Linked DNA regions of Homo sapiens: all the other regions are linked to region 1. Evidence: fine-mapped expression QTL. A gene starts in region 1. Each other region holds a variant in brackets. All regions are shown on one strand. Distances are between the middles of the regions. Region 1 holds the start of LRRFIP1 (LRR binding FLII interacting protein 1). Region 2 overlaps LRRFIP1 (LRR binding FLII interacting protein 1). Region 3 overlaps LRRFIP1 (LRR binding FLII interacting protein 1). Region 4 overlaps LRRFIP1 (LRR binding FLII interacting protein 1). Region 5 overlaps LRRFIP1 (LRR binding FLII interacting protein 1). Region 6 overlaps LRRFIP1 (LRR binding FLII interacting protein 1). Region 7 overlaps LRRFIP1 (LRR binding FLII interacting protein 1).

Region 1 (4,067 bases):
TAATTCTGACAGCCAGGGGAGGTTTCTTCTTCTCCATTTTAGAGACGAGAAAACAGAGGCCCAGAGAAGAGTGAGTAACTCACCTTCCTAGGATGGCACAGCTGGCTAAGAACTATGTCATTTGAAAGCCCAGCTCTGACTCACAAGTCTATCTCTGTAACTCCAACTGCATCTCCCTCGGTGGGAGGGAGGACCTCAGGGCTCTCAACCCAAGGAGTGTTCCCTTGCCTTCCTTTTCAATCTATTTTATAAAAACCAGCAGATAGGCTGGGCGCAGTGGCTTACGCCTGTAATCCCAGCACTTTGAGAGGCCAAGGCGGGAAGATCACTTGAGGCCAGGAGTTTGAGACCAGCCTGGCCAACACGGTGAAACCCCGTCTCTATTAAAAATACAAAAATTAGCCGGGTGTGGTGGTGCGTGCCTGTAATCCCAGCTACTGGTGAGGCTGAGGCAGGAGGATCTCTTGAGCCTGGGAGGTGGAGGTTGCAGTGAGCCGAGATCATACCACTGTACTCCAGCCTGGGCAACAGAGTGAGACTGTGTTAAAAAAAAAAAAAAAAAAAAAAAAGAAGAAAGAAACACCAGTGGATAAAAGGCAAACTCTGGAAATTTTCATTCTTCTCATTCTTCTGCCCCATAACCACTGACATCAAGACAAGGCTTGCGATTCACTGGCCACCTCTGGCCCTTGCAGGGAACACTTGTAAGGCACTGTGGTCAAATGCATACATAAGTGACTGTCTTCACAGGAGGGAGTTATACTCAAGCTACTATATTTAGCAAATGTCTATATTTAGCCAAAGGTCCTTTAAATGCCTTGTACTTCTTTTGTTTATTAATTAATGTAACAGACATAGACAAACACCTAGTATGTGCCTGGCTCTGTGCTGAGCTCTTGGGATACAAAAGTAAGATATTTCCTGTCTGGGTGTCACCTTCTACAGGTGGACAAATAATGATAAGGTATCCTGACTGCCATGCCAGGCGCGGGCATGCCATGGAGGGCCGTGGAGCCAGGGAGACTTAGGCCTGGTGCGATGTGAGAGGGCTGAGTCTGGAAGGTCTCCTGGAGGTCACAGTGGGCTTCCAGGAATGAATAAGGGTTTGCCTGGAAAGCCCTTTTCTGTATCATACAGAGAAAAACAGAAGTCTTTATTCACTCAGTAGTCAACAAATACTGAGTGACTGCCACATGTCCGTAAGAGCAAAATCAGGTATTTACAACTACAAACACCTAAGGATTGGTTACAGAGTAGATCCCCCAGAATATCTGACGGATACAGCCAGACACCACAGTCCAAATGGCTTGGAGGTGTTTCCTGTGGGAAGAATCACATGTGGAAAAGCCAACACGGAAAAGAACCTGTAAGGCGGGTTACAAGGCAGAGACTTTCTTTGCATTCATACACCCACCTGGCACACAGTTCAAATGGTACAAAGGGAACACAGTCAAAAATTAAGCTTCCTTTGTCCCCCTGGGGCCGCAACCTATTGGCTCCCCTTTTCCCAAGCTGCTGCTCTCTGTCCCTGTACGGCTTTCTGGATGTCATGTACATTCTTTAGCCTTAAGGTAGAATCCTTGCGGAAGGAAAAAAAAAAAGGCATTTGTACAAATACCCATTCTAGTGCGCCTTCAATTTGTCACAGGTAAAGTTCATCACCAAACATGATCTTAGTTACAATAAACTCTGTCCAGGAAACTTTAATGAAGACGTTTCAGTGTGCCTGGACCCGTTTCCAGGCTCAGTCCTGAAAGAAAAATCACAGTGATCCCCAAGTTCATCTCTGAGCTGCACCTTGAGTGACATCGATGGATGGATGACAAATGGTCACCTGAGCGACTCGGCCATTTCAGCAGGGCCATGTGGCCTCCGGCGACCGTCCACTGCCTCCAGGTCGGGCCTAAGCCCCCGCCTCCTCCCATGCCGCACAACAAAGCGGGGCGCTCGCCCCCACCCGGCCAGCCCGGGCCACCTCGCGCGCTGGCGGCGCCCGGCTCCTCTCCCGAGGGCGCAGCGGCCGACGGTGGCCGGGGTGGGGGAGGGCGCGCAGCGTCGCGGGCTGGGCCCGGGGCTGGAGAACGGGTGCGGGGTCCGCAGGCCTCGGAGATCGGGGCCGGGGCGCAGCGCCTGGGGATCAGCGCCCCGGCGCGCGCCTGCCCGGCCCACCCGCCTGGAGCCGGACGCGCAGTGGCACAGACGCACAGCGGGACAGACGGACGCCGGAGAGACCCTGACAGCCGTCCGGCCCCCGCGCCCGCCCGGCGCCCCCCGGCTGCCCTCCCGGAGCGCTCACCTCCCGCGCGATCTGGTTGAGCGCGTCGTCCTCCGCCGTGAGCCGCTCCCGGTTGGGGAGCCGCTTGCGCCCCGATCCCTGGGTGCCCATGTCCATCGACCGCGTCGCCCGCAGCTGCCGCGGGGCCCGTTGCTCCAGCCGCTCGCGCCGCCCCGGCCCGGCCCCGGCCCCGGCCCCTCCCTCCGCCGCGGCGTCATGGCGTCAGCGGGCGCTGGGCCGGGGACGCGGGGACGCGGGGGGACGGGGGCCGCGGGGACCCGGGGGAAGCCAGAGCCGGAGGTCCGCAGCGCGGGCCAGGGACTGCAGGGGCCAGGGACGGCGGGGCGGGGGACGGGGGCGGGGGGCGGAGACGCCAGGTGTCAGGGACGATGGGGGTCCGATACCACGGGGACGCTGCGGATGCCCAGGGCCGGGCACGCGGGACCTGAGGGACCGGGAGCCCCGGAGGGTGGACTTTGCGGGGACTGTTTGGCGGGCCGGTAATCGCGGAGCGACGCGCGCCAGGGCGGTGGGCACCGGTTGAGTGGGGACCTGAGCGGAGAGCGGGGGGGTAGGAAGGCTTTCAGAGGCCTGAGTTGCCTTGAGGGGTTTGCACGGAGGGGTGAGCACAGGATTTGGTTCAGCCTGGCGCTCCCCATTCCGCGGTGAGTCGGGGTGGAAGTCCCTCGCCGGGGTGAGAGCTAGGCTCTGGGGTCAGGCCGAGAGGTGCTCGGATCCGCCCGCCACCGCCGCTCCTGTGACCTTGGCCAGCCTCCTGGGCGCCGGCTTCACAGCGGCATGGTGTGGATGTGTGCGTTTCTGTCTTTACACGCGTGTTCTCCGTGCTAGCATCCATCCTTCTCCCCGCTGTCTGCCCCCTGAGATCAAGGACTTGTCACTTCTCTGGTGGGTCCCCAGCCTCTAGGATCGGGGCAGGTGCGTCGCAGCTCTCTCCTAGTTGTTGAAAAAGTAATGAACTTACCTGTGCTCTCTGAAGCTCACAGTCTATGCTCCAGAGGTGGATTTAAAAGTAAAGCAAATCGGAGGATTAGGTAGGGGTTAAAAGCCCCTGCCTAGGGCACGGCAGGAGCACCGGGTGGGAAAGTTACTGGTGTGTTTGGGGTATGGGGAGAACTTCAGTGTGGCTGGACCTGGGGAAGGATGGGAGGGAGGGTAGTGATGGTAGAGGAGAGGAGGCTGTACTGAAGTCACCTGTGATTTTTTTCCCCCAGTGATAAGGACAGTTAACATTTCGGTGTATTTCCCACCAAGTGGTGTGACCAGATTGCTTTGGATTCTTAAGGAGGTGGCCTGGAAGCTGTATGAAGGTGGGAAGAGGAAGAGGGCCCTTCCACCCACAGTGGCAGGGAAAGCTGTTGGAGGTTTCATTGCAGGGAAAAGACAGCGAGTCCAGTGACATGGGAGGGAGGGCAGATCCAGGTGACATTGCTCTGGGTGCCTGAGCTGACGCAGGTGGGTTGGCAGGGCTGACTGTGGCATTGTTCATGACTGAACTCCGGGAGCAGAAACTGCACCTGCACATTGTAGGCACTAAGGAAATAGGTGTTGACTGAATCTTCCAGGCCATATTTACATTACTTCAGAGGCCATACTCCTTAAGTGACATAGTCCTCCTTGGGGGAAACCTTGAGCCGTGGCCACTTGCACTGCCTTGGTCTTGCTGGTGGCTGCTCACTGTTTCCCAGCCCCTGGGGCACTGTGGGGACTGTGCGTCTTTGCCGAGGCTGGTCCCCATGAGTTCACTCATTCCTGCACCCACACCTGCTGCCTG
Region 2 (4,067 bases), 140 kb before region 1:
TAATATCAATTACTGTGCTTGGCTATAAAGTCATTACACTGGAGAGCATATAACTGATGCTCAGAATGAAGGCTCTGAAATCATCGAGAAATGGTTTGGCTGCTCAGAACTCTTTCTTTTTCCTTCTTTCTTGCTCATGGATTTTCAGCTGTCCATTCCCTACTGGAGGGCTGGGTCCAACTGCTTGTTCACTGGCACAGTGCCTTCCATGTACAAAGTGATCAAACCTGTCTATTAATTAAGCAAATGAGTGGTGAATCACTGAGACGGCTGGATGGCTGAGCTGAGGGATGTGATGTGTGCCCAACGTCCTGCAGGGTGCTGGTGAATAACATGAGAAAGAACTTAAAATGGCTTGATGATCTCACCATTTAGTGACCTTGGTTGTCACACTGCTTTCCAAGAGCCCTTTAAAGGTAGGAATGAGAGCTGTTTCCAGTATGCATTCCAATAGGAATGCAGCTTTGCTAAAGTTAGAGACATAAACTAAAACCCTGTGAAGTCCTATAGAGCCCTTGGACTTATTTCCTAGCAAGCATTTATCATCCCCACCATCCTCTACTTCAGGACACTTGAGCAGAAACAGTCAAGGTTTTTGCCGTTTTCATCCTGCTCTTCAAAACACTGTAAGTAGTGGCGCAGGTAAGCACAGCCACAGGTGAAGACCGTTTTCAGCTGAGGCTGCACATCAGAACCACAGATCACAGGGGATGGTGCGTGACAATCGTCTCAGTTCTCCCAGTAATGCCCATGCTAGCCCCAGGCTCGATGCCAGGAGGGAAGTGCATTCCTTACTGAGGGAGGGCATCAGGCGTGGGTCTTCCACGGAACCCCAATAGGAATCAGCAACCCCCAAGCAGATATTACTCAAAGGTGGTATTACATACAACAGTAGTCAGACTCAGACTTCAAGCAGCCCAAAGAGTGGAACCACAGGCTTGCACAATTATAAAATGTTTTTATTTCAATTACATAATAACACGTTTTCCTCAAATTTTATTGAGGTTTTGGTCTTTTTGCATTCAATTCTATCTTGTAACAGTAATATGAATCCACATAATTTCATAAAATGTCAACAACATTCATAAGGTACATTCCTTTGTGATTTTATATTTTACAATTTTAAATCTAACTTTACAATTATTTTAAAAAATTTTTTTATATAGAAAACAGATATTTTCTTCAGGCAGATCAAAACAAGAATTTTCCAGTAAGAATATACTGGGACATAACAAATGAAAATATTTATACCAAAATACCAAAAGTGATTCAGCTCTTTAAAATATCCTACTATAGTCTAATTAGTAGCTTGTACAAGAACAAGTAACCATTTTTTACTGCTCTTTTGAATGATGATTAGAAATTCAAACAAAGTATTTTAAGGTTCAAAAACTTTTTTTTTTTTTTTTTTTTTTTTTAGAGACAGTGTCTCACTCTGTCTCCCAGGCTAGAGTACAGTGTGCAATCATAGCTCACTGCAGCCTTGAACTCCTGGCCTCAAGCAATCCTCCCACCTTGGCTTCCCAATGTGCTAGGTTTACAGGCGTGAAAACATTGTGTTGTGTGTGTGT[GTGTT/T]TTTTTTTTTTTTTTTAGACAGAGTTTCGCTCTTGTTGTCCAGGCTGGAGTACAATGGCTTGATCTTGGCTCACTGCAATCTCTGCCTCGCAGGTTCAAGCGATTCTCCTGCCTCAGCCTCTGGAGTGGCTGGGATTACAGGCGCCCACCATCACGCCCGGCCAATTTTTTGTATTTTTAGTAGAGACAGGGTTTCACCATGTTGGCCAGGCTGGCCTCGAACTCTTGACCTCAGGTGATCCACCTGCCTTGGCCTCCCAATGTACTGAGATTACAGGCATGAGCCACCACGCCCGGCCAAAAACATTTAAAAAATGACTGTCCCTGCTCAAATACTGCAGTAGGAAATGTAATTTGACATATATCACTTCCAGAAAAAAACTTTAAATCTTTCTATAAAATGAATTTGATACATCATCAGCATGAAGTGAAGTTAAAATCTCTTACAAAGTAAATTCAGGTATATCAACAATGAGATCCAAAAGTATCGGTTCAAGATCAAAGACTCATATGAGGTAAAGGCAAATAAAGCCCCTCATGCTTTCAGACATTTACTTGTTATCCTTAAAATGATTATTGTTCTAAGGTGCAAATCTTATCATTCAGTGACCTATTTGCTATTTGGCTGTTTATCTCCTTTAAATAAAATACCATACAGGTTATAATGTACATTTTAAAATCAAATATGAAAGTACACATATGTGAACAAGACATTAATTTAAATATCAATTATATTCATAATACAGAAGTCTAAGAATGCTATTTGGTCATTTCAATTAGATGCTGATATATTTGGTCAAGAAAACCCACATTCCTATCAGCCTAAGGCAAATAGTAAATGCCTCTATTTTTATTAAGTGGACTATAAACAGTAGACATTATTGTTTGATACTACTGGAATGCTCTCAATTAGAACGTACACTGATAACAAATATGTCTTTCTAATCTGGGTGATAACCTCAATGATTACATGGAAATCTACAAGTAACAGTCTATAACTTAAAGCAGTAGAGCACCTGGTAATTGTCATACAGTGCCTCTCTATGAATTTAGAACATTCTACTTACATTGGCAGTGGAGAGAAAAGACCCCTTCACACTGAGACTTCCTGTGCACCGCGCCTGCCGCCTGCCTCAGCTTAGGACATGGTACAGTCTTCTTTGCTTTTGCCCTTCTCATTCCCTCCTCTGGTATCTTCTCTGCTTTCTGGATTGAAGTGCCCTGGCTCTCTTCCTGGTGCCGACAAGTCATCGTTCTCTAGGCTATTGCTGTCTAAAGCTTTCCTGACGGTCTGACTTGGATGTTCTGACATCTCACACCTCTCTGTACTTTCTGCTTCACAGGCATCACTAATGTCCTGTGAGGGACTTTCATGTTCGGGCAGGGTGCAGCGATCTGCGTCTTCGCTCTTTGGTTCTGCAGGACTGCTTTGAGTGGCACCATCTATTTTAGCATTATCTTTTGCAACACCTTCATCTAATTCTTCACCACCAGCCCTCGGGCCTGATGATTGAACGGTGTCATCCTCAAAATCTAATGTGTCTCCATCAGCTAGTACCTCCTCAGCTGCTGTTTGTACATCATCACCTTCTTGGTCAAGTTTTCCATCCAACTTAATTTTAGGATTCTCCGGACAATCAACATTTTCACTGCTTTCTGCTGCAATTTTCTGTTTTGGATTTTCAGTCACCTCGTTTTGGGCTTCCACTGCTGACTTTCTGTCAGTAGACTTTACCTGCTCTTCTTCCTTAATTTCACTTAAATCTGTGTTCTGATACGTTAACTCTTTTTTAACATCTTTAAGGGTTTCTACGGGTACTGGGGATTTTTTCTTCTTGTTTTTCTTTTTCTTGTTCTTTGTCTTCTTCTGCGATGAGTCCAATGCCTCTCCCTGTTGGTCACTCTTTTCTTCATCGGGCTCTTTCATATCTAAGGGTTCATTTTGAGTGTCTACTGTACTTGGACCTGTCGCTTCCTGACAGTTGCCCTCAGTTCCTGCTGGAGAACCAGGAACTTCTGTCTTGATTGGTTTCTCGTCCCTTAATCCTGTTTCTTCACCCTCTTCTTCGTTGTGATCCCTACCTACTTCTGTACTGTGCGCTGGAACCTCCTTGGGCTCAGCTGCTTCCTGGTTGGTGAATTCTTTCTCTAAACTATGCCCTGTGCTTGTCTCTAACTCTTGGGGGACCTCTACCATACATTTGTCATCATGATAAACTGTGTCATCACTATGCCCTAAAGGACACGAGGCCACTGTGCCTGCCTGCTCTTCAACCTGAGTCACTGCTGCCTCTCCCACATTCTCTGTGTGGTTCCCACCATCTAAGTCACTCCAACAGTTGGATGGCTCAAGGGGAGTTCTGGTCCTGTCATCTGGTGCACCCATGACCTCATTTGACTCAACCTGTACTGTGTTTTCAGGGAGAGAACTGCTCTCAAGAATTTGGCTTTGAACCTGTTCCTCATAGGTAGCACCTGCTAAGGTTCCTAGG
Region 3 (4,067 bases), 66 kb before region 1:
AGGAGGGGGACAGAGGTTCTCAACCCACAGGGAAAGCCCACTCCTTTCCCTAGGAAAATCACACAGCCACGTGCCACATACAGTAAAAAAGACAGAAGGATCACAGGTGGCGTTGCTTTGATCATCTTCATTACACAAATAAATGAAACATTTTGGTTAAAATTAAGAGTAAATCTTCATTATAGTGATTTAAGATAAATTACTTCTCTACTACAAAGTAGTTATACTTTAGATTCAAGGGAAAACTACTTACCTAGTTTTAAAGTTGTAAAGTTACAATCCCAAGGAGAAACCACTGGAAACACTGGCCCTTTCCAAAATGAATGAATGAGTCTCGGAATACATATAATTTCTGTTGCCAGGTGTGTGTGTGTTTTGGTTTATTGTTTTGGAATCTGGCCTGGGGCAGGGGGATTATACTACTGGTCTATAATCAAATACATGGCAATTTTGAATGATTAAATCTTGCATGTAGTCAAAATATTTAATTTGGGAGAAAGAAACGAATTTACTTAATTTTATCTAGGTAGTCTGAATAATAAAAGTTCTAGTAAGTCCATTCCATGAAAACAAGCTTCTTTATTTAAAAAAAAAAAACAAAAAACAAATTTGGGCGGCCTCCAGTAATAACAGTGAGGTAATAAAAATCCTCTTCTCCTGTCCCATGTCTAACACGTAGTGAGATGTAATGGACTTACTGATTGGTGAAGAGGTTGGTAATCTAAACATTATGGCCTCTGGGGCTTCAAGATCACTCCTTTAAATACGAGCAGATATTCTGGAAGCACTGGCATATGAGTAACCAGTCATAAACAATTCCTTTGCTGAGTCACACAGCCTGATTTTTCGGGGATAAGAAGTTCCTCTTGGACATTGCCTTTTGAGGACCAAACATGCTGCACCAACATTTAGTCTCACAATTCTGTAGGGATTGGATAAGAATCTCACTATAATCAGGTAACTCTCCAATCAACTTCGCTGAAACACCGTTCTGCAACTATAAATAACTTGATTTCCTGTGCTCAGCATAAGTGGCAGTTGAGACTGCAGGGTTTTTTGAAATTTGCTAAGGAGGCTTCCGCTGTGGGATATTAACTCAGGCTGAACAGAAACTGACTCTTAAAGAAAAAGGGAAATTTAGTCTCCATCTTTGCCCCAGTAGGACACTCTCAATACTACTAGAAAAGACCTACCTTACTATATTTATGTCTTACCTGCCCGGGGAAATGACATGCCTAAAACACACACCATATGATTCCACGCTCCACCATCTCAGACTGAGCTAGAGCAGGGCCAGCCCGCCTCGTGCCAACTGATTCATCCCCATATTGGTCAAGACTCCACTCTCCCACACCTGGGGACCCTGGCCCAGGTACCTATAATGAGATGGGACTTGGGAGACTGTGTGTCCACGCTCTCCCCTAACAGCCCTTTCTTGGGACAGTGCTGGTCATTTAGAAGGGCTGAATGCTAATCAGTATGTGGAAAGAGAGCGGGGTGACACAAGCCATCGCAAACACAGGGAAGTTACAAAAGCTGCAGAAATGCACAGTGTCTCCACTGTCCGCATCGGACCCTCTCCTACAGCTCCAGGGCTGGTGCCCACTTGCTGAAGAAGCCCAGGCTCCCACTCAGATCCTGCTTTTGTCTTCTAGTTGAGGTGGAGCTTGCCAAATCTACTTCCTCTGACCAACCCGGCTCTCCTCTGCATGGGTGCGGCCCCCAGTCCCTCCTTTCCGCAGGAGACCCATCCCTGAACCCACGGACACAATGCAGAGCAAGAACTGGCACAAACCAGTGTGAAACACCCACAACCACTTTCC[T/C]GTGCCTATACCCAGCCCATGGCCCAGGGCAGCCGCTGGGTGACGCCCTACCCCCCACCCATGATGACCCCCAATTCCCATCACCACTCAGCACATTTCCTTCCCTACCTGAACATTAGCCTCTTAACAGGAACTGCATTTTGCTTTTGTTCACCATGTCTCACTCTGATACAGTTTTTGCTACCATTTACCAAGAAAAGCTCCTACAGGTTCACAACTTCTCTCTGAAAACCCTTGGGGCCATGATTCAGAATTCAGCATTTTTGGACATTAGAAACGTAGTAAGATGCATACACCATATATTCTGGTACAACCCAGAGTAGCAGCCCTTAATCAAAGACATCAACAAGACTGCAGAGAAACGTAAGAAAATTCACACTCAGAGGGATCAGTGAAGACCAAAACTAGCCCCCCATTGGACAGGGCAAGTCTCACTGCCAAAATTCTGCCACAAACTTATAAAAACAAAACAAAACACAAACCTTCCGGTCTTCAAAGCTTATTGGGTTCTGGAACTGGGGGTGAGGGACAGTGGGCCTGGGCTGATCACATAACTACTCAGTTGGACACAGTCCAGACTTTCCTCTCCCTTCCTCCCGGCAGCATCTCGAAGTCATCTGAACCCAGACCCGCCCAGGAGGCTCCCAGCCTTAAGTAATAGACCCTGTAGCCAGTGCCTTAGCTGCTCCAGGTGTGCCTCTACCTACTCCTCTGATTAGCCTGTCCCTAGTTTCCTCACATCCTGTTCTCAATGTTTACTCTTCCCTTCTCCAAGGACTCTAAGTCCAGCAGGCAGCTCTTCACCTCCATCCTCCTCCTGCCATCTATGGTGTCCCAGGCTGCTCCTCAGAACACTGGCACCGCTCAACCACATTCCCACCCTTCCTTCTTTCAAGAACCCTTCCCTGATGGTGATTCAAGGGTCTCTCTTCCCAGGCCCCTAGGAACTAATTAGTTGAAGGGGTAAAAACCGGCTCCAGAGGGCTGGCCCACTGCCAGAGTTTTAAACGAAGTCACAGAAAAACCACACTAAAATGGACATTTAAAAAACAGCAACCATCTGACAAGCAAAGAACTGGCTTTTCAGTATGAGTTCATCAGACTCTACTTCTACACCTCTCTCTGGCATTTCCTAATAAGCTCTCCCAAGGTCAAGGCAGTCTGATTCATCTTAAATCTTACACACACACCCAGTAGATGATTAATTTCTACCTGATGAAAGAGTGATTGTTTGGGGCTCATACTTTTACCAAGATCCCACGAACACCTGATTAAGTGGAAAGCTAGGGTTTTATATTTCTTTTCCAAAGTGCACCCTTTCACTTTTATTCCCATTCATGTTCAACCACAAGCTGCATGAAAATGTGTATTTGCAAACCCTCTCCGCCTCATCCCCTGCCCAATTTTAATGCCAAACTACAGCCGTAGCCCCACGACTGCATATTGAGCTGGACAACGGCAAAATCCTAGAGGCAGGATCCTGTCCGCGCTGGGCGGACCCGGGAGACTAGCCAAAGTGGATTTGGCGTCTGGAGTCCTCGGCGGAGGTGGTCCCCAGGTGCTGAGCGGGTTGAGTGCTCCAAAGCACCCCAGCCGCTCCCCGGTGGTTCCAACAGCGGGTGAGGGCACCGGCTCTGGCCACCCGGTCCTTGATGCTGTATTTTGTAAAATAGCAAACTAGCAGCTCCCTGTGACTCCAGGCCAGGCGCAGACCTGGTCAGAGCCTGTCTGCAGCCCATCACCTCGGGCGGGGAGAGACCATGTGCCTTTTCGTCCTTGGAGGTGGCGTCCCACAATAAAGCGTGCTTCCTAGCGCATGAGGGACGCCGCTCGCCGGGCCACTCACGGACCCGCGCCCACTGCGCCCGCTCCCACCGCGCTGGGGTCCCGCCAGAGCCCACCCCACGCCTCCCGGGCACCTGCGCCTGCCATTGACCTCGGAACGAGCTGGAAGCCCCTGAAACCCCGCCGCAGTCACGAAAGAAAGTTTCGGAAGCGCTTTCCTCTTACCAGCTTCTGCGCTTCCGGGCTCAAACAGTCGATCTCCCGGCTTTGAGCGGCCGCGGGGCTGGTCATCCTGCCGGGCTCGGCCCGCTCCACCCGGCGGGAAATGCTCGGGGACCGCGCCGGGAGCCCCTCGCGGGCCGGGCCAGGGGGCGCGCGCTCTGTCCGCGGAGACGGAGCCACTCGCCGCTAAGTGAACGCTCGCGCTTCCGGGGCCAGGAGCCAGCCCGCCGGGGAGCG
Region 4 (4,067 bases), 29 kb before region 1:
CAGTCTTGGGCAGTTCTTTACAGTAGTATGAAAACAGATTAATGCACAGCCCCCTACTAATCTTTTTGAAAAAATTTCTTGGTTATTATTGCTTGTTAATTTTTCCATACAAGTTTTAGAACCAGGCTATCTGGTACCAAAAGAAATTCTATTAATATTTTTATTGGGACCTGCATTATGTAGATAAACTTGGTGAGGTTTGATATTTTTATAGTGTTAAGTCATCTTATCCAAGAACATGGTATGCCATTTCTGCTGTTGAAAGTTTTGGTTTCTCAGTAGTGTTTTAAAGATTTCTTTATATAAATTGCACTCATGCCAACCTTATTCCTTGGTATTTTATATATTTTATAGCTATTGATATGAAGCCTTTTCTTCCATTCTGTCTTCTAACTGGTTATTGCATGAATATATGGAGGCTATTGATTTCTGGGCAGTAGCTTATACCCAGCTGCCTTCCTAAATCCTTGTACTGTTTGTCACAGTTTTTTAGGTGGTTCTCCTTGGTTTTAGGATTTCCATGCTTGTCTTAGTCCCACAGTTAAATAACGCTCATTGCCAGTTCTCTTGTGTACTTCTTTCACTTATCTCTTGGTTGCACTCGTTCTGAACCTTGGGGTTTAAAAAAGTATTGATAATTCAGTGCTATCACCGAGCTTCTAATTTAATTCATATGGGCTGTGGCTTGAGCCTACAGGTTCATAAAGGATCTCAGTGATTCCATGGAACAATGTCAGGTGGAAGACATTGTCTTCAATAGTTTATTCAAGAAGGAATTATGGGGACGATATTCCTGAATCCTTGCATTTTTTAAAAATGGAATTTCATTTTTTTACATATCCTTCTAGGGAATTATATGCCTATATAAACAAATATATTTTTCTCCTCTTTTATTTTTGAATGACAGTTTGAAGCGTGAACAATTCTGTCACGCTTTCTTTCCTTAAGGCTTTGTAGACATTGCCATAACTTTCTTCTAATAGTGAATGTTGCCACGGAGAAATTGAGGCCAGGTTGGATATTTTCCCATTTGATCTTGATTTGTTGTTGTTGTTGTTGTTTTTTGCCTGTCTTCTCAAGAACCTCTTTATCATGGCCATCTGAAAACACGATTAGACTGTTTCAGTAGTGACTGTACTATCTCTATGTTTTCTGGGGCATGGTGGAGATTCGACTCTTCTTTATGGAATGCCTTATTAATTCATATGTGAAAATATTCATTGTTCCATTTATTTAGGTTTTCCTCTTAGAATACTCCAATTTTACATATGTTGCCTTTGCCTGTCTACTCACTGTTAAATTATTTTCCTCTCTTTATTTCTGTTTCATTTTGCTCCTGTTTCCCATTTCTGTCTTCGCTCCCCTGCCTGGCTGGTACGTGCATCCTCACACTTGACCTGTTTCTGTGATTCTTCATCCAACCTCAGCTCCACTGTAACTGAAACCAAAATGGTGCAAGGATGCCCCCTACCACCGCCAGCCTTTTCCCACCACTGCAAACAAGGGTTTGGGGGCTCTTCTTCAGAAAATGCCCCTTCATGGGTAAGTTTACTTTGATGAAGATGAAAATCTTAGAATAGTGGTTTTCTATCATGAATTATGTTATCTTCGTAACATTGTAAAATTCCACAGAATGTCACATTATATTAGTGAACTTCCATTGACATATAAATTCAGTAATG[T/C]TTTTAGGAGCAGTTGCATTTTATTAATCACAAATAGTACTTACAAATGTTTAAAAAGTAAAAATACATACTGACACAAGGCACATTTAATTTTTGTCTAGTTCTCTGAAGTAAAATGCATGCTCTTCTGATTATATTTTTTGCCTCTTTAAATTTACTTTTGTTTATATTGTACAATGAATTAACTTCTATTGTGGTAGTTAATGTGTAATTTATGAATAATCATACGTGAGTCACATGGATATTCCATAAAATATTTGGTGCTCTGTCCTAGACAATGCTCAGTGTGCACGCAGGAATACCAGGCACCATGTTCTTGAGAGAGCTCAGGGCCACAGCCAAGAACCACTGCTTGGAAATTGAGACAAAATCCTACCTATACAGTTGCTCAGTAAATACTAGTTAACTTACCTTCCTCAGCAAGTATTTAGATAGACATGATAAACCATATATTTCACAAATTGGGCAGAAACAAATGCATACATATGATTTGGATATATTGAAAATACTCAAATATCTTTAAACTCATGCCCTACCCCTGCCCAGTATAATAGCTTTTGACATTTTCTTTAATTTTTCTCAGTGTAATCCTGAATTGCATAAAGACAAGATTACAATCCCAAATAACCAAAGAGAAATTCTATACATAGCACTGATTTGCCTAGACAATCTTGGTTTTGTTTTATTTAGTTTTTTAAATACATATATGCATTGCCACCTTACATATAGATAGATAGATGTATCTATATATTTACGTTACATATGTAATTCCTATCAGGAGACACCCCTTACCTTTTATTCCCCAATTATAGTTTCCAGAAGTTAAGGTCAAAATCAAAATGAAACAAAATGAAAATAACCCCAATGAAAAGACTGACAGTTGATTCAGTGAATAAATCTCAAACTGGGAACCAATAACTCACATTTCAAAAGATAAGAGTAAACTGGAAAGCGATGTCCACCCTGTTTGTGGAATTGTGAGTCTTTTTCATTAGCAGCCTAGTAAGAAATAAAGCAGTATTTCTCTTGTTTTGTCTTTAATTATCTCCATTGAGGGTTAACAGCGTTGGGCTTTGCCCTTTTTGTTCATGTGGTTGGGTTTCAGTCAACACTGGCCTGTCGTGTTGTTTTCTACAGAGAATACAGAGAACTGGTTTTGGTTATATCATATTAGGGAGTTAAAAAGATGTCCTATATATATCCAATCACAAAACGAGCACCCAAATCAGCTTTAGTGGATTCAGGAGATGTAGTCAATCTTCCCCACATGCTTTCTAACTCACTTCAAATATGACAGATTTGTAGCTAACTTTCACAGCAACAGGAAGTTCACTTAGCACTCAGCGATGTGAGATTTGAGAGTCATCTATATTGGCACTGTAAATTCCATTTCTTAGAAAAATTACAAATGTCAATCCTTCTTTTATAAATGCAAATTCTTTCCATTAGAAGATGAGTGACGGCTGGGTGCAGTGGCTCATGTCTGTAATCCCAGCACTTTGGGAGGCTGAGGTGGGCAGATCATTTGAGGTCAGGAATTTGAGACCAGCCTGGCAAACACGGTGAAACCCAACTTTACAAAAAATACAAAAATTAGCTGGGCATGGTGATGCATGCCTGTAGTCCCAGCTACTCGGGAGGCTGAGGCAGGAGAATGGTGGGAACCTGGGAGGCGAAGCTTACAGTGAGCCTAGATCCCGCCACTGCACTCCAGCCTGGGCGACAGAGCGAGACTCCGTCTCAAAAAAAAAAAAAAAAAAAAAAAAAAGAAGTGAGATCACGTGGTATTCGTCTTTCTGTGCCTGGTTTATTTGACATATCATAGTGTCTTCCAGATTCCTCCATGCTGTTGAAAATGACAGGATCTCCTTCATGTTGAAGGCTGAAGAGTACTCCATTGTGTCTCGATACCACATTTTCTTTATCTATTCATCTGTTGTTAGACACTTAGGTTGATTCCATATCTTGGTTATTGTGAATAGTGCTGCAGGGAATGTGGGAGTGTAGATATATTTTCAACAGGCCGGGAGTGGTGGCTCACGCCTGTAATCCCAGCACTTTGGGAGGCCAAGGCAGGGGATCACTGGAGGTCAGGAGTTCGAAACCAGCCTGGCCAACATGGTGAAAACCCATCTCTACTAAAAATACAAAAAGTAGCCAGGCGTGCTGGCAGGTGCCTGTAATCCCAGCTACTCGGGAGGCTGAGGCAGGAGAATCACTTGAACCCGTGAGGCGGAGGTTGCAGTGAGCAGAGATTGCGCCATTGCACTCCAGCCTGAGTGACAGAGTGAGATTCTGTCTCAAAAAAAAAAAAAAGGAATATTTTCAACATACTGATTTCATATCCTTTGGAGACATACCCAGAAGTGGGATCACTGTATCATA
Region 5 (4,067 bases), 150 kb before region 1:
ATGTGTGATCACTGAAAAGAATAGAAATTGAATATAAAATTTAAATTTGGCAAGAGAAAAATGACACACAAAAGACAGAACAAATGGTTATCCACAGTCAGATGGTGAAAACGAGTCCAAATATACCAATAACAATGGACTAAGGGCTCTATTAAGATCCACAGATTCCAGATTCAACTAAGAGCCACCGCCACCTAGCTATGTGCATCTGAAGGAGATCATCTAACGCATAACAACACACGGAAGACTGGAAGCCAAGGGATGCAAAAATCAGAAGTGGACAAACACTAACCAAAAGAAAGCTGATGCGGCCACGTGAATACCCGACAAGGTCAACAGCAGCAGGGACCAAAAGGGTCACTACAAAGTGATAAAAGGTTTAACTCATCAAGAAGATATCAGAATTTTAAACATCTAGTATCAATAGCCTCAACATATATAGGAGAAATAGGGAGAATGAGATAAATCCACCATCATCTTTTGGAAGAGCTTGACAAATCTCTATCAGCTACTGAGAATTTAAGCAGACAAAAGAAATCAGATCTGAATGCACACTTCACAAGTTTGATCAGTGGAAGTATACAGAATTTTGCATCCATAAATCAGAGACTACACATTCTTCTTAACCACATTGGAGACATTTACAAAAGTGAATCATGTATCAGGCCATTAAGCAAGTATTGACAAATTTCAAAGACCAGGTATAACAGGGACCATGTTCTCTGACCATAGCAAAAGTAGGCTAGAAGGTTAAATGGGCCAGGCATGGTGGCTCATGCCTGTAATCCCAGCACTTTGGGAGGCCAAGGCAGGAGGATCACCTGAGGTCAGGAGTTCAAGACCAGCCTGGCCAACATGGAGAAACCCCGTCTCTACAAAAACACAAAAATTAGCCAGGCATGATGGTGGGTGCCTGTATTTCCGGCTACTCGAGAGGCTGAGGTGGGAGGCTTGAACCTGGGAGGTGGAGGTTGCAGTGAGCCGAGATGGCGCCATTGCACTCCAGCCTGGGCAAGAGTCAGACTCCGTCTCAAAAAAATAAATAAATAAAATAAAATCAAATAAAATAAATAAATAAATAAAATAAAGAGGAGAGAAATGGCATCTTTGGTTTCTCCTCCACAGTCCCTTTCCTACAGTTTAAATATAAAATGAGTGATTCTTTCCTTTTTTTTAATGAAAAACGGTCTCACTCTGTCGCCCCATGCTGGAGTGCAGTGGCACGCTCATGTGTCAAAGCAGCTTTCACCTCCCAGGCTCAAGCAATCCTCCTGCCTCAGCCTCCCAAGTAGCTGAGACTACAGGCACGGGCCACCGCACCCGGCTAATTAGTTTTTTTGCACTTTATGTAAAGACAGGTTTTCACTATGTTGCCCACACTGGTCTTGAACTCCTGAGCTCAAGCGATTTGCTCACCTTGGCCTCCCAAAGTGCTGGGATTATAGGCGTGAGCCACCGCGCCCGGCCCGAGTGATCCTATTGAAACATAAATCAACATAAGCCACTCCTTTGCTCAAAACCCTGCAGTAGCTCCCACTTTATGCACAGGAGGATCCCAAGTCCTGTCCATGGCCTCCAGGGCCCTGCCTCACGGGCTGAGGTGCTCTCACTGCTCCCTCCACCCCCTCACCCCCTGCTCACTTGGCCTCCACCGCTCTGACTGTTCCTTGACAAAGGCAGTGCCTTGCCCCGAGCTCCCCTGCACGTGCTGATCCTTTGCGCGGAAGGCTTTCTCCCAGTTCTGCCTGGCTCACTCCCTGGGCTGTTCAGGCCTGTCCTTATATGCCACAAGAAGGAAAGTCTTCCTTGGCCACCTACCTAGAACTGCCCTGGCCTGGGCCATTCCGCACCCCAGCCCCTCTCCTGCCTGTGGTCACTTTTATGGACCTCCCTCTTCCAGAGCACAGGCTCTATGGAGGCGGAGACTCCTGTCTGTAAGGTCACAGCTGCATCTCCAGCACCTGAACCCGTGCCCGGCATGCAACGGGTGCTGTAAATATTTGTTGAACAAACAACTTTGCCAAGTGTCTTCAGTAAGGTAAAGTATGTGTTTTAATTGGCAAGCATGGTAATTTGGGAGTGTGACCAGCAGGTGGAGTAACAGCAGCTCGGCTTCTCAAGGGCACTCTCCATAGGGTGACCTGAGACAGCTGTGGCCTGGCCCTGGTGCCACACCCAGCTCTTGGCCACAGCAGGCCCATGGGCTCCTGGTCCTCCACCTGGGCTCATTCTGCATGACACAAAAAATATTCGGAGCATAAGAGGCCTGGCTACTCCTTTATCTCATTC[T/C]CTTGACGTTTACGGACAAGACCTATAGGAGATGCTCAAAACTGACAGATGAACTAGTTGATGCCAGCAAGGGTCTAGCCCTAAGCCCTAACTGGCTGCGCCATGCCTTCCTTTATTAAGACACCGGCACTGCAGAGTGGTGTGGGATGATCTGACAATGACCAGCCCAGGGGCAGATGTCACAGTAGTAAATCCTCTCTGTACCGTCCCCACTAGAGAAATACTGGCAGCCATTCTCTTCCTAGAAATTGCCTAGGAAATTTACCTCTCTTTGGAGTTTCCGTTTTTCTGCCTTAAGTTCATCTTCTATTTTTTCTGCATTTTCAGCCGCTGATTTGTAACGTGATACTTGACTCTCTAACCTTATTACCTAAAAGGTAGAAAAAAAACCATATGTATAAATTGATAAGCCTGTTTTCTTTCTTCAGTTTCTTTACTTTGAGATCAAAGAGTGTGATTTAATAAAATGGGAGAATACACCATGTAAATACTTATAACATTTTGGACTATGGTGTGGGTTTGAGCCAAGCAAGCTATTCTTGGTTACTATTTCTGGGCGACCCTGTGCTGACATGATGGGGACCCATTTCCTCTGACCCCGTCCACCAGGGTGGTTTCTGCAGTGCTGGCACCTTGCTGCCTGCTTCTTCTCCCGCTGCGTGGGGCTGTTCTGTTGGAACAGGCAGAATGGTGCTGGTAAGGGACGTGTTCCGCCACGACCTCAGCTCCAGTCTAATCTCTCCTGGGGTGGCGGGGGTGGGAGGAGGAAAGGACAGGGCGAGGAGTGAAAGGAGGCGGCTTCGGCATGGCATTCCCCAGCCAAGGTTCTGAGATGAAAGACGGCAGCAGCGAAGGCCTGCTGGACACCTTCACTCTGCCGCAATCAAAAGCACACATCGTCTCTACCTGTGCTGTTCTCATTTTTGTTTCTATAAACATTCTAAAAAGTTCCAGCCAAGTACACCCACAATGGAGGGGGAAACAGTCCTGTTTTTTTTCTCTCTTTCTGGCTAGAACACAAATTGCCCTAGGGCCCAGGGTGCTAGAGGCAGGAGTGCCCCATGTCTAGACACCAGGGAGGGCGGGCCTCGCTGCAAGAGAAAGGCTAAAAGCCCAGGCAAGAGGGACGTCCCAGTATGATGTGTTTTTTTAATTAGCTACATTATTTATTTATTTATTTTATTTTATTTTTGAGACAGAGTCTCGCTGTTGCCCAGGCTGGAGTGCAGTGGCGTGATCTCGGCTCACTGCAACCTCTGCCACCCTGGTTCAAGCGATTCTCCTGCTTCAGCCTCCTGAGTAGCTGAGATTACAGGCGCCTGCCACCATGCCCGGCTAATTTTTGTATTTTTAGTAGAGACGGGGTTTCACTATGTTGGCCAGGCTGGTCTCGAACTCTCGACCTTCAGTGATCCACCCATCTCAGCCTCCCAAAGTGCTGGGATTACAGGTGTGAGCCACTGCGCTCGGCCAATTAACTAAATTAATTTTAAAGAACAAAATTTTAAAACACTCCCAAGCCACATTAGCTATTTTCTACAACTAACTGTTGTTGATAAAGGATTAGTATCTACTGTAACAACTTAAATTCTAAGAATTCTTTCCTTCCTGCTTGCTCTGTAAGAAACGGATGGAAAGACTTGCTGTCTTAACTTATCCCTCTTAGGACATTTCTTGGTTCTAAAAATCTCGGCTTTTTCTGGTCCTCAGCCTTTCAGGGCTATTTCTAGCAAGTAAAACTCCAGTCAATCATCAGTTCTGCCCGTTGTTGCTTACAC
Region 6 (4,067 bases), 47 kb before region 1:
CCTGGCCTTCAAATAACTTATATTAAATGGACAAAATAATTTGGTCTTTTGTAGGTAGAAGCAACCCAAGTGTCCACTGATGGCTGAATGGAGAAACACAATGTAGTATAGATACATAGTGGAATTTAACTCAGAATTAAAAAGGAAGGAAATGCTGTCATCTGCTAAAATGTGAGAAAACCTTGAGGACATCATGCTAAGTGAAATCAGCTAGTCACAAAAGGACAAATGCTGTATGATTCCAACTAGATGAGGTACCTCATACTATTCATCAAGACAAAGTAGAATGATGGGTGCCAGGGCTGGATGGAGAAGAGAATGGGGAGTCAGCGTTTAATGGGGGCAGAGTTTCAGTTCTGCAAGATGAAGAAGTTCTGGGGATGGCTGGTGGTGCTGGCTGCACAAGAGGGTGAGTATACTTGATGTCACTGAAATGTACACTTAAAAATAGTTAAGATGGCAAACTTTGTTATGTGTATTTTAGCACAATTTAAAACTAACGTTTAAGAAAACAATTTACCCTTTTGTTTATGTAATCACAAAAGGAGGAAGACGAAAGCCAGCGCAGAGTTTCCCCAGAAAACAGGAGCCAGATGGTGCGAATCCAACAGACTCCACGTGAAATCAGCCACACCAAAGGTCAGGAGATCTGTGTGGAGAGAAACTTTCAGAGAAGGCAACCAGGGCACATCTCTGTTTTAAAACCATCTCCTGGGCCGGGCACTGTGGCTCACGCCTGTAATCCCAGCACTTTGGGAGGCTGAGATGGGCAGATCACTTGAGGCCAGGAGTTTGAGACCAGCCTGGCCAACAGGGTGAAACCCAATCTCTACTAAAAATACAAAAATTAGCCAGGTATGTTGCCCATCTATAATTCCAGCTACTCAGGAGGCTGAGGCACGGGAATCCCTTGAACCGGAGAGGCGGAGGTTGCAATGAGCCGAGATCGTGTCACTGAACTCCAGCCTGTGTGACAGAGCGAGTCTCTGTCTCAAAAAACAAAACGAAACAAAACCCACAAAAATAAAACCATCTCCCTACCATGAGCCCTCCACATTTGCAATTCATGAAAATGGAAAGCTGTCATGTCCCCACGTGAATTTTCGGGTCTCACTAGAAAGATAACCATCAGGACCGGCAACATGGGATTCAACAACAGTTTCTGGTCTAATTTTTTAAAAAGGACGAAAGAAGGCAGGCTGGTGTCATGCAATACTGCTTGCATTAAAGTATGTACATTTAAACTATGTACCTTGAACTTTTATTGGAAAAGCGAAGCTCAGTAGTAAAAATTTACGTTAATCAAATTCATGGAGACAGAAAGTTGCATGGGAGTTGCCAAGGGCTGGGGAAAGCAATGCCCACTCCACCTTCAGCTCTGTGAATTTGGGGAGTCAGTGTTTAATGTGTACAGAATTTCAGTTTGGGAAGATGAAAAAGTTTTGGAAGTGGATGATGGTGATGGCTACACACTAGCGCACTTAAAACCACTGAACTTTACACCTAAAAATGGTTAAAATGGTAAATCTTAGAAATATTTTATCACAATAAAATTATGGTCAAAGTTTTACATTATAAGAAAAGGGCCAGGTCAACCTACTGCTTTACAGCATCCTGTCCAGCTATAAAAATAGTGTTTAAGACAAGTATGAAGTAGAATTGGAAATGCTTATGACAAAGATTATGACAATTATATCTCTGCAAAAATAAACAACACCTAAGGCCCTAAGGAAATACATCAAAATGGAGCCATGGGTGTTTTTATGTCACAAGGAAGATAGAGATATTTTTTTCTTTACTTTTCTTTTCCAGTGTTCTTTTTTCTTCCATGAGCAGGTACTACTTTTAAAGGGGGAAAATAACAAAGTTCATTTCCTTCCATAACTTCATTCGAAAAGAAAGGGAGGAAGAACAGAAAGAAAACCCTTTATGTTTTGTGTTCCTAGAGGCATTTAAACCCAGCCCAGGAAACGGCAATTAATCAGGCTGGCAACTGCTCTCAGCTCTCTGTTTTTTGGTATAGTGGATCCCCCTGGCAGGCTGGTGAAGCCTGTGGAGCATTCTTGGAATAATATTTTTAAACGCATGTAACGAAACATAGGGTTACGAAGGAAACTGATTATTCTGAAACACATTGTCAAAAAATATTTTTAAATCCTGATATAGTGTATCAATCAGAGCCAAGTCAGGAGAAAAAGAAATTACAGCAGTGATTTCAATAGAAGCAATACAGGCAGCCCCTAAACAGGTGTTGCTTGGCCGAAAAAGCAAAGGAGG[C/A]CTCATACCACAGAGGCGTCATCTCAGGAACAGCTAGGGCTGGAGACAAAGACCGGGGTGATGGTCCCAGAAGGCTTGGAGTGGGGACCCGGACCTCAGAGCGGGGGCTCAGGAGGGACTGGTGAGGGTGGTGTCTGGGCGTGTGAAAAACACTAGAAACAGAACCAACAACTGCAGCCAGGGTGAAATCCCGTTGCTGGGGTGACGCTCACAGAAACAGGAAGCAGGCAGGAAGCAGCGTGCTCCGGGCTCCCTCCTCCCACTGCCCAGGCTCTCTCTGGGGGCAGGGCCCGATAGGGCACAGCTCTGGCCCTGCAGCAAGGAAGGGAGGGTTTGCAGTGGAGAGGCAACAGTTCAACAGCCAGCACGTGCGTGCACGTCCTTATTCCACCAAATACTGACAGTGATGCATGAAACCATTTCCCCAGCTCTCAGCAACAACCCGAAAGTGACGGAGAAATACCTGTGGTTTCTATTGGTGCTGAGGTCACACTTCTAATACTACCGAAGGTTTTTGCCCGCATTCATAATGGAAGGTAATGCTACCCTTTTATTCCTATTCAGTTTCGGGGATCTCTGGAAATCTATCCAAAGGCCCCTGGGGGAATTCTTGGACCCAAGGTTAAGAATCCCTCTGGGCCTTTCAAGGTGTCAAATGCAGTTCTTTTGTCTTCCTTAATTTTTGCTTTTGAAAGTCACATAATTGACCATTGATACCAGGGTTTTAAAACAGGTTTTTAAAGCAAAAATAATAAGAGGACAAACACATGCCATTCTGCACAGCTCTCATTTAACTAACACTGATGGCCACTCCTGCAGATAGCAAACAGTCACTTTTGCAGTGTATCACATTTTGCCTATTTCTGAATGCCACAGAAAAGAAGGAAAATGCACAACTGCCCTTGCGTCCTTGCCCCTGCTCATCTGCGGGCGCAGGCTAGGATTCTGGGGGGCTGCAGAGCTCTTTCCTGTAATACCCCACCACCCACTTTGACCACGACCTAGATGTTGATGGGCACCCAGTTCATATTTCCAATCCTGACTCCTCCAAGCCTCAGCCCCTGCCGTCTGGACACCTCTTCCTGGAAGCCCCAAAGGCACCTCAAATGTGACAGATCCAAAGCAGAATTCCTGCTGCCCCCTGAGTCCCTTCCCTGCATTTCCTTCCCGCGGGGGCAGCAGCAGTGCCTCCTAGCAGGCTTCACTTGAAGTCCCTGTGCCCAGACTCATGTGTAAAGGAGAGACAATAATAGTGACAACTTCATAGGGGTGGTTGTTGTGAGGATGAAACGAGACAATAGACAGTGTTTGTAGACGCGCTCTGCACAGAGCCTTAGTGTCAGGAAACGCCCACCACTCACTGCCAGCTGCTGGCGCTCCTGAGACAGCCTCCGCCCACCTCTCCGCCCGTCATCGAGTCAGCTTCCTCTCTTAATGCCACTCCGTGCCCTCCCACAGCTGCTGTCTTAGAGCAGGCCTCAGCATGTCTCCTCAGAATGATCTGAATTGTCCCCAAACGGTACCCTCCCCGCCACTGCTGCCAATGTGACTTCCTTCATTCACACATTGATTCATTCCATCCACAAACACGGACCCAGGGCCTCCGCCGTGCCAGATACCACGCCAGCTACAGACAGAACGACCGACCGGGGGCAGCCGCACTTTCTGGGGAGGACTGATGTCAGACAACCGCACACCCAGCGAGGGTAACTGTGAGGAACCACCCCACGCCACGCCCCACGCCACGCGCGGCACTGGATGTACAGACAGGAAACCCAGAGGGAAGTGCA
Region 7 (4,067 bases), 55 kb before region 1:
GAGCAGGAGGACCCAATATTGAAGGACCTGCCTCAGAGCTGTATGTGTCCCAGTCAAGGTGCACTGTACCTGAGCTCAGAGCCCTTCCATGGCGTTACATTACACCATTAAATGTTGTTTTGTGATACACTCTGAGGCATACTTAAAATAATTTCTAATGTATTTTACTCTGGAATTAAACTCATCTCAAAAAGTGTCTAGGAATAAGTCTATAGCAATCCTAAATGTATCCGCTTTCCCAGTGTGTTCCACAGAATTGATGCTTTTTAAGTCCATACCAGAGTGACCACAGTAACCTCCTCTATACACAGTAGCCAAGGAAATGGCCACAAACACCTCCAGTAAAGCATCTCTAAGAAAACCACTTCTGATTTTTGGGGTTTTTTTGTGTGGGGGGGGGAGGGTAGGGAGACAAGGTCTCACACTGTTGAGTGTCAGGTTGGAGTGCAATGGCACAATCTTGGCTCACTACATACAACCTTGGCTCACTGCAACCTTGTCTCAAGCTATCCTCCCAACTCAGCCTCCCAAGTAGCTAGGCCTGCAGGTGTGCACCACCACGCCTGGCTAATTTTTTTTTTTTTTTCAGAGACAGGGTTTCAGCATGTTGCCCAGGGTGATCTTGAACTCCTGGGCTCAAGCAATCCACTAACCTTGGCCTCCCAAAGTGTTGGAATTACAGGTCTGAGCCACCGCACCAGGCCCAATTTTGTTTTTCATGAAGACAATGCACTGCAAATATCTACCAATTACCTTCTAAAAACACGACAGCTAAAATCCATTATGTATTTCTCAGTCTTACAGGCACAAACTCTGAAAAGTCCTCCTAAGGCAGCTCTCCTGTGAAGAAAAAAAAAATCTATACATGCTCTCAGAATAGTTCATTTAAAATGTTCAGAATAGATGCTGACATGGGGAAATAAGCTTCATCCTCAACAACTGCATTCACCAGCTAACAGTATACCCCACTGAGAAGAAATAAATCAAATGCTTCAATATATACTTAGGAATAGAAAATGGCAATTTGTTTTTTTTGAGATAGTCTTGCTCTGTAGCCTAGGCTGGTGTGCAGTGGTGTGATCTCGGCTCACTGCAGCCTCCGCCTCCTGGGTTCAAGTGATTCTCCTGCTTCAGCCTCCCAAGTAGCTGGGACTACAGGTGTGTGCCACCACACCCAACTACTTTTTTTTTGTATTTTTAATAGAGATGGGGTTTCACCATGTTGGCCAGGCTGGTCTTGAATTCCTGGCCTCGAGAGATCTACCCGCCTCGGCCTCCCAAAGTGCTGGGATTACAGGTGTGAGCCACTATACTTGGCCAAAAAAAAAAAAAAAATGGCAATTTTAGTACAAAATAAAAGCAATGTATTTTTTCCAGAGATTCCCTCATTTATGTGGCTTTGCCTCAGTAATCCTGCCTATGAGTTTAACATTCTAGAAAAGAGAATATTCCTGACAGTCAGAGCCATGAAATAAATCTTTACGCTACTAGCTGAAAACTTCAGAATCCACCACGCTACAAATGTCATTGATAAATGTCATTCACAAAAAAAAGAAGTGTGGGGAGAATAGGACTCCATAATCTGAATTTAAACAGTACCCATAGCATACAGAGAAGTTTAAGGTACTCAAGATGTATTCGAAGGCTTAAAAGTAAAGCACTGCCACTAAGCAACTTGGCTTCCAGGCTCCCTGACTGAAGGGCAGACATGAACATCAGGAACGGTGAGCATCCTTCCAGCTGAAGGTACAGAAATCCTAAAACAGCATCCCCAAAATGATCTTTCCAAGAAAATGAATTTCCATAAAGGAAAATAAAGGCTAAAACACACTTCGGCATAACACTAAAAACATAGACCCACACTCTAATAGAAGGGTTTGCCCTTTTGCACTTTGGCCCTTGAGAGATAGCTCAAAG[C/A]AAAGTCATCAACTATTCGAGTACAAAAAATGTTCTCCATGTGTACAAATTGGATATCTTTAGAGAAGACTTGGACATAGAACATACAAGCCTCACCTTTGAAGAATGAAGATCTTAGATGAACTTCAGGGGGAGTGTGAGGAACGCCAGAGAGCAGCCATTTGGAGAGACATGCTTGGCACGAGAGTGGAAATTCTGGAATAACTGGAGATCAAATAGCCACTCCTGACCACGTCACCTTTATACCCTGTACCTCACTGGGCAGCTGCCTTGGCATGATGAGAGGGCGTGGTCCCCTAAACGCACTGGAGGCTTTCCAAATGCTTCTCTGACCTGACCGTCGGCTTGATTTTAGTTGCTGAGATTCCACTGAAGCCCTCGCCCCTTGTCTCCACCCCGTTGGTGGCATCTGTATCAAATGTGCTGTCGGGCTTTTTGGGAAACCCTAGGATTGATAAAGAGCAGGGTCCCCTGACGTTTGGGGTTGCACAGTTCCTTGTCGTGGGCGGCTGTCCTGTGCATTGCAGGATGGCTAGCCGCGTTCCTGGCTCCACCCACCAGATGCTGGCAGCGCTCTCCACCCCAGCTGTTACAACCAAAAATATCTCAGACATTGCCAAGTGGCCCTGGATCTAGAGGGGCCTGTACCTGCATCCGAGGTGCCCACACTGTGGAAGCACATTCATGTCTCAGCTTATACAGCTGGATGGGGCCCCAACAGTTCCACAGCAAAGCATGCACAGAAAGAATGGTCAAGATGGGAATATGTGCACACGGCATCTAACATCTGTTGCCTTCTTCTTTCATCCAGTGAGAACTTGAAGGCAGGGCTGCTTGTCAGGGACGGCAAGAAAGTCAGCGCCAGGAGCATTGAAAGACAGGAGGTGCAGGTCACTGGGTGGGAAGTGGGGAGTTGAGATTTCAGATGTGGTGTGGTCACACCAAGGGATGTAATCCTGGAAGTTGGCTGGAAGAAAGAACAGCTGAAGTGAGAAGATCAAAGAACTGGGTTTTGCTTCTCGGCACCTCTGGGAAGGCCCAATCCAAGAGTAAGCCGATGGGAGAGAAAACAACCCTGCACCCCTACACAGAGAATGCAAGTGACCTGTGCAGAAGGCCTCAAAGCTCCAAAGCAGAGGTTTAGCAGATAATCAGGCTCGAGCTCCTGTTCTGCCATTCACTAGCCTGTAATTTCAAGGAAATCCCCTGACCTCTTCCAGCTTCCTACGTAAAGCAGGGAGAGAGACAGCCAGCAGACAGGACTGCCCGGAGGACTGCAAGTAACAGGGGACCTGAGCCTGGCATGAACAAGTACTTTGTTCCGTTGCACTGGCAAAAGATTCCGTCTGGCAGCTCATTCCATCTGCTATTTGACCATACACAGATTATTTTTTTCCCGCAAAACAAGGGGCTCTAGAATTACAATTTACATCCAGGTTAGAGAAGTTGCGGGAAGGTCTAGCATCACTCAGTTAGCTTGGACTAGGTTTAAAACTTCATCAGTGCTTTTGGCACACTCAGGGAGCTTCTGCCGTCTTTCAGGCAGCTGTCCGTCTTCGAGCCCAGCACTGTGTTGTTGCTTTACTGCTATTCCCAAAGCCAAGCTTGTGGAGTTCTTAGTCCTCAGATGAACACAATTAAGAATAGGACTTTGGGAGGCCGAGGCGGGCGGATCACGAGGTCAGGAGATCGAGACCATCCCAGCTAAAACGGTGAAACCCCGTCTCTACTAAAAATACAAAAAATTAGCCGGGCGTAGTGGCGGGCGCCTGTAGTCCCAGCTACTTGGGAGGCTGAGGCAGGAGAATGGCGTGAACCCGGGAGGCGGAGCTTGCAGTGAGCCGAGATCCCGCCACTGCACTCCAGCCTGGGCGACAGAGCGAGACTCCGTCTCAAAAAAAAAAAAAAAAAAAGAATAGGACTGCGGCCGGGCACGGTGGCTCACACCTGTAATCCCAGTACTTTGGGAGGCTGAGGCAGGCAGATCACCTGCGGTCACTAGTTCAAGATCAGCCTGGCCAATGTGGTGAAACCCCGTCTCTACTAAAAATGCAAAAATTAGACAGGCATGGTAGCATGGGCCTGTAATGCCAGCTACTCAGGAGGCAGAGGTGGGAGAATCGCTTGAACCCAGGAGGCGGAGGTTGCAG

What was found.
Region 2: its variant is fine-mapped to the expression of LRRFIP1 in whole blood (INTERVAL, PIP above 0.99).
Region 3: its variant is fine-mapped to the expression of LRRFIP1 in whole blood (TOPMed, PIP 0.98).
Region 4: its variant is fine-mapped to the expression of LRRFIP1 in whole blood (TOPMed, PIP above 0.99).
Region 5: its variant is fine-mapped to the expression of LRRFIP1 in whole blood (TOPMed, PIP above 0.99).
Region 6: its variant is fine-mapped to the expression of LRRFIP1 in whole blood (TOPMed, PIP above 0.99).
Region 7: its variant is fine-mapped to the expression of LRRFIP1 in whole blood (INTERVAL, PIP above 0.99).

What each region holds. Positions count from the first base shown.
Region 1 is chr2:237,625,970-237,630,036 of GRCh38, reverse strand. LRRFIP1 (LRR binding FLII interacting protein 1) reads right to left here and starts at 2,450. Exons shown (of 24, transcript NM_001137550.2): 1 at 2,297-2,450. The coding sequence starts at 2,392.
Region 2 is chr2:237,762,787-237,766,853 of GRCh38, reverse strand. The region is part of intron 19 of LRRFIP1 (LRR binding FLII interacting protein 1); the gene reads right to left. Among named protein-coding and RNA genes, the nearest start is that of RBM44, 34 kb to the left of the region's middle. The variant GTGTT/T (reference allele first, on the strand shown) is at 1,572.
Region 3 is chr2:237,692,288-237,696,354 of GRCh38, reverse strand. All of the region lies in intron 1 of LRRFIP1 (LRR binding FLII interacting protein 1), which reads right to left. Among named protein-coding and RNA genes, the nearest start is that of LRRFIP1, 67 kb to the right of the region's middle. RefSeq lists an enhancer at 1,594-1,773 and a silencer at 3,837-4,067. The variant T/C (reference allele first, on the strand shown) is at 1,824.
Region 4 is chr2:237,654,486-237,658,552 of GRCh38, reverse strand. The region is part of intron 1 of LRRFIP1 (LRR binding FLII interacting protein 1); the gene reads right to left. Among named protein-coding and RNA genes, the nearest start is that of LRRFIP1, 29 kb to the right of the region's middle. The variant T/C (reference allele first, on the strand shown) is at 1,683.
Region 5 is chr2:237,772,950-237,777,016 of GRCh38, reverse strand. It overlaps LRRFIP1 (LRR binding FLII interacting protein 1), which reads right to left. Exons shown (of 24, transcript NM_001137550.2): 23 at 2,555-2,659. Among named protein-coding and RNA genes, the nearest start is that of RBM44, 24 kb to the left of the region's middle. The variant T/C (reference allele first, on the strand shown) is at 2,290.
Region 6 is chr2:237,673,450-237,677,516 of GRCh38, reverse strand. The region is part of intron 1 of LRRFIP1 (LRR binding FLII interacting protein 1); the gene reads right to left. Among named protein-coding and RNA genes, the nearest start is that of LRRFIP1, 48 kb to the right of the region's middle. RefSeq lists enhancers at 2,201-2,340, 1,897-2,443, 2,397-2,691, 3,812-4,067. The variant C/A (reference allele first, on the strand shown) is at 2,278.
Region 7 is chr2:237,681,442-237,685,508 of GRCh38, reverse strand. All of the region lies in intron 1 of LRRFIP1 (LRR binding FLII interacting protein 1), which reads right to left. Among named protein-coding and RNA genes, the nearest start is that of LRRFIP1, 56 kb to the right of the region's middle. The variant C/A (reference allele first, on the strand shown) is at 1,918.